2 linked regions of the Homo sapiens genome follow. The protein of the gene in region 1 purifies or fractionates together with the protein of each later gene. This does not show direct contact. Each region holds a gene or a part of one and is shown on either strand. Other genes may lie near its edges.

What was found. Proteins that work in one complex are often made in the same cells at the same time.
Region 2: the proteins of NAAA (region 1) and BMP7 purify together in Homo sapiens (affinity purification with mass spectrometry; 3 studies listed by BioGRID and IntAct, with this or other methods). This does not show direct contact.

The regions. Positions count from the first base shown.
Region 1 is NC_000004.12:75,927,342-75,931,093, forward strand, and holds part of NAAA (N-acylethanolamine-hydrolyzing acid amidase isoform 1 precursor), read right to left. Parts: intron 1-3,752.
Region 2 is NC_000020.11:57,169,012-57,172,763, forward strand, and holds part of BMP7 (bone morphogenetic protein 7 preproprotein), read right to left. Parts: intron 2,098-3,752; coding exon 1,948-2,097; 3' UTR 1-1,947. UniProt on the Homo sapiens protein: Growth factor of the TGF-beta superfamily that plays important role in various biological processes, including embryogenesis, hematopoiesis, neurogenesis and skeletal morphogenesis.

The DNA.
Region 1 (3,752 bases):
GGCTGAGGTAGGAGGATAACTTGAGCCTAGGAGATTGAGGCTGCAGTGAGCCAAGATCCCGCCACTGTACTCCAGCCTGGGCAATAGAGTAAGACTCTGTCTTAAGAAAACAGAAAGAAGAGAAAAAGAAAAAAAACAGGCCTTGTGCAGTGGCTCACTCCTGTAATCCCAGCACTTTGGGAAGAAGCCGAGGCAGGAGGACTGCGTGAGCTCAGGAGTTTGAGACCAGCCTGGGTAATATAGTGAGACCTTGTTTCTACTAAAAAAAAAAATTAAAAAAAAATTTTTAATGCCCCCCCCCCCCCCGCCAAAAAAAATAGCTAGAATTTGAATGTTTCTAGTGTAAAGAAAAGACAAATATTTAAGGTAACATATCACAATTAGATTGTGCACACATGATCGTGCATTTATGAATGTGTGATTTGAGACAGAAAGACTCTGTCTCAAAACAAACAAAAAAAAATGGGCAAAGGACTTGAATAGATATTTCTCCAAAGAAGATATACAAATGGGCAGTAAGCACATGAAAAGATACTCCATATCATTAATCATTAAGAGAAATAAAAATGTGATTTGCATTTCTCTGATGTGATTATATGAATGTAACACATCACATGTGCTCCCAAAATATGCACATGTAATGTGTATCAATAACAAAATTAATTTTTAAAAACCCACTCTAGCAATTTTGAAATACATAATACATGATTGTTAACTGTACTCACCTTGCTGTGTGGATCACCAGACCTTATTCCTCCTGTCTAATTGAAACTTTGTACCCTTTGACCATTTCCCTTTTTCCTCAGTGCATAGCAACCACCATTCTACTCTCTGCTTCTATGAGTTCAAACTTGGAGATTCCACATATAAGTGAAATCATGCAATATCTGTCACAGTAGGTTTTAAGCAGGGGAACAACCTGACCATTCTAGTTGCTGGGTAGGGAAGGAATTATAAGAAAGTAAAAATAGTAGCAAGGAGATCAGGTGGACTAATCAGGCAGTACAGGTGTGATGGGGGCTAGCTCAGCAGTGGAGGTAGAATGGACAGGTACAGTCTAGTTCTGCTGTCAGAGCTGATAAGACTTAGGGAGTGAGGGGTCAGTGATGATTTCTGGTAGCAATTGGTTGGGTAGAGGTGCCATTTTCTGAGACATGGGAAACGAGGAGAGGGACAGATTTGAGTAGAGGCAGAGTTGGGTAGAAAATAGGGAAAAGAAAAAAGCAAGAGATCTGCTTAGGCAAGTGTAAGATGCCTAGTAGACGTCAGAGTGGAGATGCTGAGAAGATGGCTGGATGCTCCAGTCTAGGACTCAGAGGAGGCCAGGCCTGGAGATGCAACAACAACAAAAACACTTCTGTGGCCCTTGCTCTGTGCCAGGGACTGCTGTATTTCATATTCGTTAATTCATTTCATCCTCATAGCAGCTATTATCATCCCTGCTTTTTTTTTTTCTTTTTTTTTGAGATGGAGTCTCGCTCTGTCGCCCATGCTGGAGTGCAGTGGCGCGATCTCGGCTCACTGCAAGCTCCACCTCCCGGGTTCACACCATTCTCCTGCCTCAGCCTCACGCCTAGCTGGGACTACAGGCACCCGCCACCACGCCCGGCTAAATTTGTGTTTTTTTTTTTTAGTAGAGACGGGGTTTCACTGTGTTAGCCAGGATGGTCTCAATCTCCTGACCTCGTGATCCACCCGCCTCGGCCTCCCAAAGTGCTGGGATTACAGGCATGATCCACCGCGCCCGGCCCATCCCTGCTTTCGAGATGAGGAAACTGAAGCACCGACAGGTTAAACTCCTTGATCGTGGTCACCCAGCTACAGCAATAAGATTTAAACCCAGGCAGACTGGCCCTGGAGTCTTCAGGTGTTACCCACCAGGTGTTTTGTTAAGCCTCCCCATGCCCTGTGGCATTCATTAGTCCTCCTCATATCTTTATCCTTTCCTAGGGTGGCTTTGAGGCATTGCTGGCACCCCCCATAATGTCCAGAGACTTAATATCACAGCTCATTGCAGCCTGTAACTCCTGGGCCCAAGCCATCCTCCCATTTCAGCCTCCCACGTAGCTGGGACTACAGGCAGGTGCCACCATGCCTGGCTAAAAGCAGTTTGACAGTATTTCATTAAATGCATATGTTGTAGACTAACTTGGTTATTTTTAACTGCTCATACCTTAGATTCTACTAATCAAGTTTGGTAAACAACTTGAGTTGCAAAATGAAAGCCAGTCATTTTTAATAAATATACATGTAATTATAGGCATTCTATTAAAAACCTTAGTAATTGTCATGCTGTGGTTTGGGTACCACAGGTTGAGAACCAGTACTATACATAGCTGACATATGAGAAAATGTGGAAGAAATACATTAGGATAAAGAACTGCTTACTGTGGACACTGATATATACTCAATCACCATCTTCCTGGTAAAGCCTTATGTAAAAAGATAAGAATAAACAATAACACTGGCCGGGCATGGTGGTTCACGCCTGTAATCCCAGCACTTTGGGAGGCCGAGGTGGGTGGATCACCTGAGGTTCGGAGTTCGAGACCAGCCTGGCCAACATGGTGAAAACCCATCTCTACCAAAAATACAAAAATTAGCCGGGTGTGGTGGCACCTCCTGTAATCCCAGCTACTCAGGAAGCTGAGGCATGAGAATCGGCTGAGCCCGGGAGGCAGAGGTTGCAGTAAGCTGAGATCGCCCACTGCACTCTAGCCTGGGCAACAGGGCGAGACTGTCTCAAAAAAACAAAAACAAACAAACAAAACAAAACAAAAACCCCAAAAAAACAACACCATGAAGTCAATCAGGGTTCATCAGACGAGCAACACTAAACTTCAAGATACTCCTTGTATATATCCTTCTCCTTGATTCAGCTGCACGCTGAGGACAGACACAGAGCTCACTTATTTCTAGATTTCCCACATACTGTGGAACTAAATGGTGTTCCCCTGAGATCTGGGGAATGGCAGTGGGGATGTCAATGAACAGAGCAATTGGGTCAGGACCCAGGAGAGCAATCTGAGAACTTCCTCTCCCACTACTAGCTGTCATTTCATCTCACAGCCTATTTCTTTCTCTGCCTAACGAATGGAGTTAAAAATAACAGCCCTGCCTAACAGGACTGTTGTGAGGGTCTAAGAAGAAGACATGTGAGGATGTACATGGTAAACCAGAAAGTGCTTTACAAATGTGGCTTGTATAACAGCATCATATATCCCCTAGATTATCACAGTAGTTTCCAAATGGTCTTCTGCTTCCATCTTAACCTAAAACAACCCAATCTCTACAGAGCAGCAAAAGTAATAGTTAAAAATATAAATCACATCTGTTCACTCCCTGGCCTACAATCCCCCTACAGCTTCCATTATGCTTAAAAACCAAACTCTTCATTGTGGCCCTGCACCATGGCCTCAGCCTCTTCTTCACTTCTAATGTCACTACCCACTTACTCCCATGCCATAACCACACTGACTTTCTTTGGCTTCTGAAATCCACCAAGCTTATTATTACTACCTACGGCCTTCATCCTTGCGGTAAGACCACCAGAAATGGTCTTCCCCTGGCTTCTGCAGAACTAGCTCCCGGATCACATGGGTCAGGCCTTCTCTGACCCTCTGACCTGTACTAACCACCCCACCTCCTCCTTCACTCTCTATCACAGCTTCCTATTTTGCTTTCTTTGCAGCACTTATTGCTACCTGAAATCTTCATTGCTTCCATGCATACTGTCCACTTTCTCCCCCTAG
Region 2 (3,752 bases), on another chromosome or scaffold:
TACAGGTTTAAATGTACAAATGATGCTAACCAGAGGCTGGTTGGGTCAGAAAACTCACACCAAGAGGGATCACACAAAAAGCCCCAGCTCTGCCAGCAAATGAAACCAAACATAACAAAAAATACTCCTCCCCAGTGACTAGAGAGTGGAGGCTGCAGCCCAAGCTACTAAAGAAGAAAAACATCAAAGAAAATAAAAACAGAGCCCCGGTGTTTCCAGGAACTGTCTGAGTCAAGATGGAGAAACAGTCCCCCACAAGACCGGGTTCCACATGGCCACAGTTTTCGATCACCTTGTTTTCTTTACAGATGCAGAAAACGTTTGCAGACAGTCTAGCCCTCCCCTAGGCCTTGTGTTTGTGGCCGGAGGCTGAGTGCATACTATTTATGGGACTCACCAGCCAAGGCAAGGCAGGCTTACACCAAGAGCCACGTCAGAAATGCCACCTCCAAATCGGGACACTTGGTTAGGATGTCACCCTCAACAAGGCTTCTATTTGCAATGTAAGTCCAGCACATCCTGCACCCATCAGACCTCCTATTATGCCATCTCCCCCTTAATTCAAGGAGCAAATTTGTTTGCAGAGACTTCTGATCAGGGTCTGCAAATGAAGAGACAGCCACGGGTGCCCTTGCCAGGGCCCAGCCTTGGAATGCCACTGCAGACAAAGACCAGAGGGTCCACTGGGGCGATGTGCAGTGCTCCTGCTCACCCCACTCCCGTGGAGAACTAGGCTTCATTGGTGCTGTTTTTTTTTTCTTTTGAGATGGAGTCTTGTTTTGTCACCCAAGCTGGAGTGCAGTGGGACGATCTTGGCTCACTGCAACCTCCACCTCTGGGGTTCAAGCAATTCTCCTGCCTCAGCCTCCAGAGTAGCTGGGATTACAGGTGCGTGCCACCATGCCCGGCTAATTTTTGTATTTTTAGTAGAGATGGGGTTTCACCATGTTGGCCAGGCTGGTCTCGAACTCCTGACCTCAAATGATCCGCCCACCTCAGCCTCCCAAAGTGCTGGGATTACAGGTGGGAGCTACTGTGCCCGGCCCATTGGTGCTTCTTAACAACAGGGTTGAGTTGCAAGTTCCATCCTACTTGCTGTCCTTGTCCCCTCTGCAATTTCACATGGATTTACTACCACTGGGGCGAGGTGAAAAGCCAATCCCAAATGTCTGCGGGTATTTCACACACCTAGTTTCATTTCTGCCACGGCAAATCCAGCTGAACAACAGAACATATTTTTCCTCCAAAGATCAACACACCGCCCTCCTCGGAGCAGACATTTGCTCTTTCCCCTCCCACTAGATCTTGGATTTGGGCAAACCTCGGTAAACACTGGGCCTCTGCAAGCCTCAGGATGAAAACTGTAGGGAATGGAGAGGGACCTCCCCGCCCTCCACTTGACACAGCTTCTGTTTACGCATCAGGATAAACCGAGAAATGGGGATAAATTGTTTAGGAAAATATATCTGTAACGTCCTAACCATTTTCATTCATTCGTTTTATTGTGACATTTATTACAGGAACTTCCGGGTCAATTTTCCTTTCGCACAGACACCAATGTGCCCACCCCTTGCCACGCCCCCTTCCTCCCACGGCTGGGTGGCCTGGCTGGTAGGCGCTCATAATTACCTCTGGAAACGAGTCCGTGCATGGCTGAGACTTCCCAGCCAATGACCTGGCCCGGCCATTTTTCTTTATGCGTTGTTTTTTTTTCCTGCTAGGTTTTGCCTGCACAGCTTGTAGGATCTTGTTCATTGGATGCTGCCACTGAAAAACTGATCAAAAGCCATATGCTGCTCATGTTTCCTAATACTCTCACACCTTTAAAGTTGGGGATAGGGAGGGGAAGGTCTCACAAAAGGCAGTTGGTCTGCTGGTTCCTGGCCAAGGCGAGCAATGGAGGATCCAGAAAAACTTGGCCCCAAAGGGTCTGAATTCTCGGAGGAGCTAGTGGCAGCCACAGGCCCGGACCACCATGTTTCTGTATTTCTTCAGGATGACGTTGGAGCTGTCATCGAAGTAGAGGACGGAGATGGCATTGAGCTGCGTGGGCGCACAGCAGGGCTTGGGCACCGTTTCCGGGTTGATGAAGTGGACCTGAAACACACACCAAAACATGGGCAGTGGTGAGAAGCGGTGAGTCGTTCTAACTGGCCTCCACGTTTCTATAAAGAAACATCCTGTCTGGGCATAATGAATGACTGCAGGTGACACTCCCCAAGCCAAGCACTCCCTGTTCTAAGCACTTTACATGGACAACTCAGTTCTGGGATTATCCCTGTTTTGCAGACAAGGGAACCAAAGCATAGAGGTTTTCACATTATACAGTGGGGAAGGAAGGGGCCAGATCCGACATTCAGGACCAGGTAATTCTCTGTTGGGGAACTGCCCTGTGCACTGTAGATTGCTGAATAGTGTCCCTGACTTGGACCCACTAGAAGTGCTCCATCTTGCTCATGGACTTCTCTGCACCTTACAGAGGATGTGGGACAGGGACACATAGACTCAAATGCCTATGAGTGCCACGTGAGTGCCACTGATAAGCAAAATAGACCGAGGTAAGACAATAGGGAATAGTGGGGACTAAGGCAAACTAAGGGAAGAGGCCGCCACTCAACCTAAGCTGACGGCAGCCAACCAAGATCAGTGTTAGCAGATCTGCCACGTGTTCAAGACAGGCCAGAGATTCCACTGTCCTGTTGTTTTCAACGTGAAACTTCTGGGTTTCCAGCAACTGTAGGTGCCAGGCAAGAGCATCAGTGACTGGCACTCTGTTCACAGCCTCCAGGCTGTGACTGCTGACATAGGCCAGCATGCTTTTTACACATTTTATGATGGACAATTTCAAACTCTTACACATCCATACCCTTCCCCACCTGCTCCACCTTGAATGATTTTAAAGCAAATTCCAGCCATCAGCTCATTTCCTCTGGAAGCATTTCATCAGGACTCTCTAGAAGACAGTTGCCCCCTTTTAAACATGACCACAATCGCATCATTTCACAATCCCTGGAGAATTCACTTTGATCCTGCAGATCTCTGGTGAAATACTGATGGAAGTAGGTGCACACAGGGCGATGGCACTCCTGTTCCATGGGCCATGAAGGCAGGGGTTGGAGAAGGATAGAGATGTGTCCCCTGGCAGCCGGGGAGACATGCCTGGCACCTTCCAGGGGATACTGGCACAGCACAGCACATCCAGGCCAGGGAACAGGTTGGGGAGGACTCTTCTGTTTCCAGCCTAAGGACCTTCAATCCCAAGTAGGGCTTTGAAGTTTACAATTGAGGAGGGGAGCAAGGGCTTTGGAAAACCAACACTTAAAAAAACAAACAAAGAAACAAAAACCCCTGCCCTCAAAGAGCAGAATCAAATGAAAGGGATAGATGAGATTTTTCTCCAGGACTTAACACACAGGACAGGGACAAGAAAAGAAGGAGGCAGATTACTAAATGAAAGGAGGGAGTAGTCCTGGTAGTGAGCTCTCTGTCACTAGAAGCATTCAAGGCAGGGTGGATGATCAGTAGGCAGGAAAGGCTCAGATGATGTTCATGACAGGGAGCTACATAACCAAGGTCCTTGAACCTTGGATTCTAAGCAAAAGAACAAAATCCCTACAGCTCTTATCACTATGGTTGCTGTTGGCAGAGCAGGAATAACACCTACTGAGTGTCGCCACGTGCTGGGCACGTTAATCTCATTATCACATGGAATCTTCCTGGTGACCCCACTGAAATTTAACTTGAAATGGCCC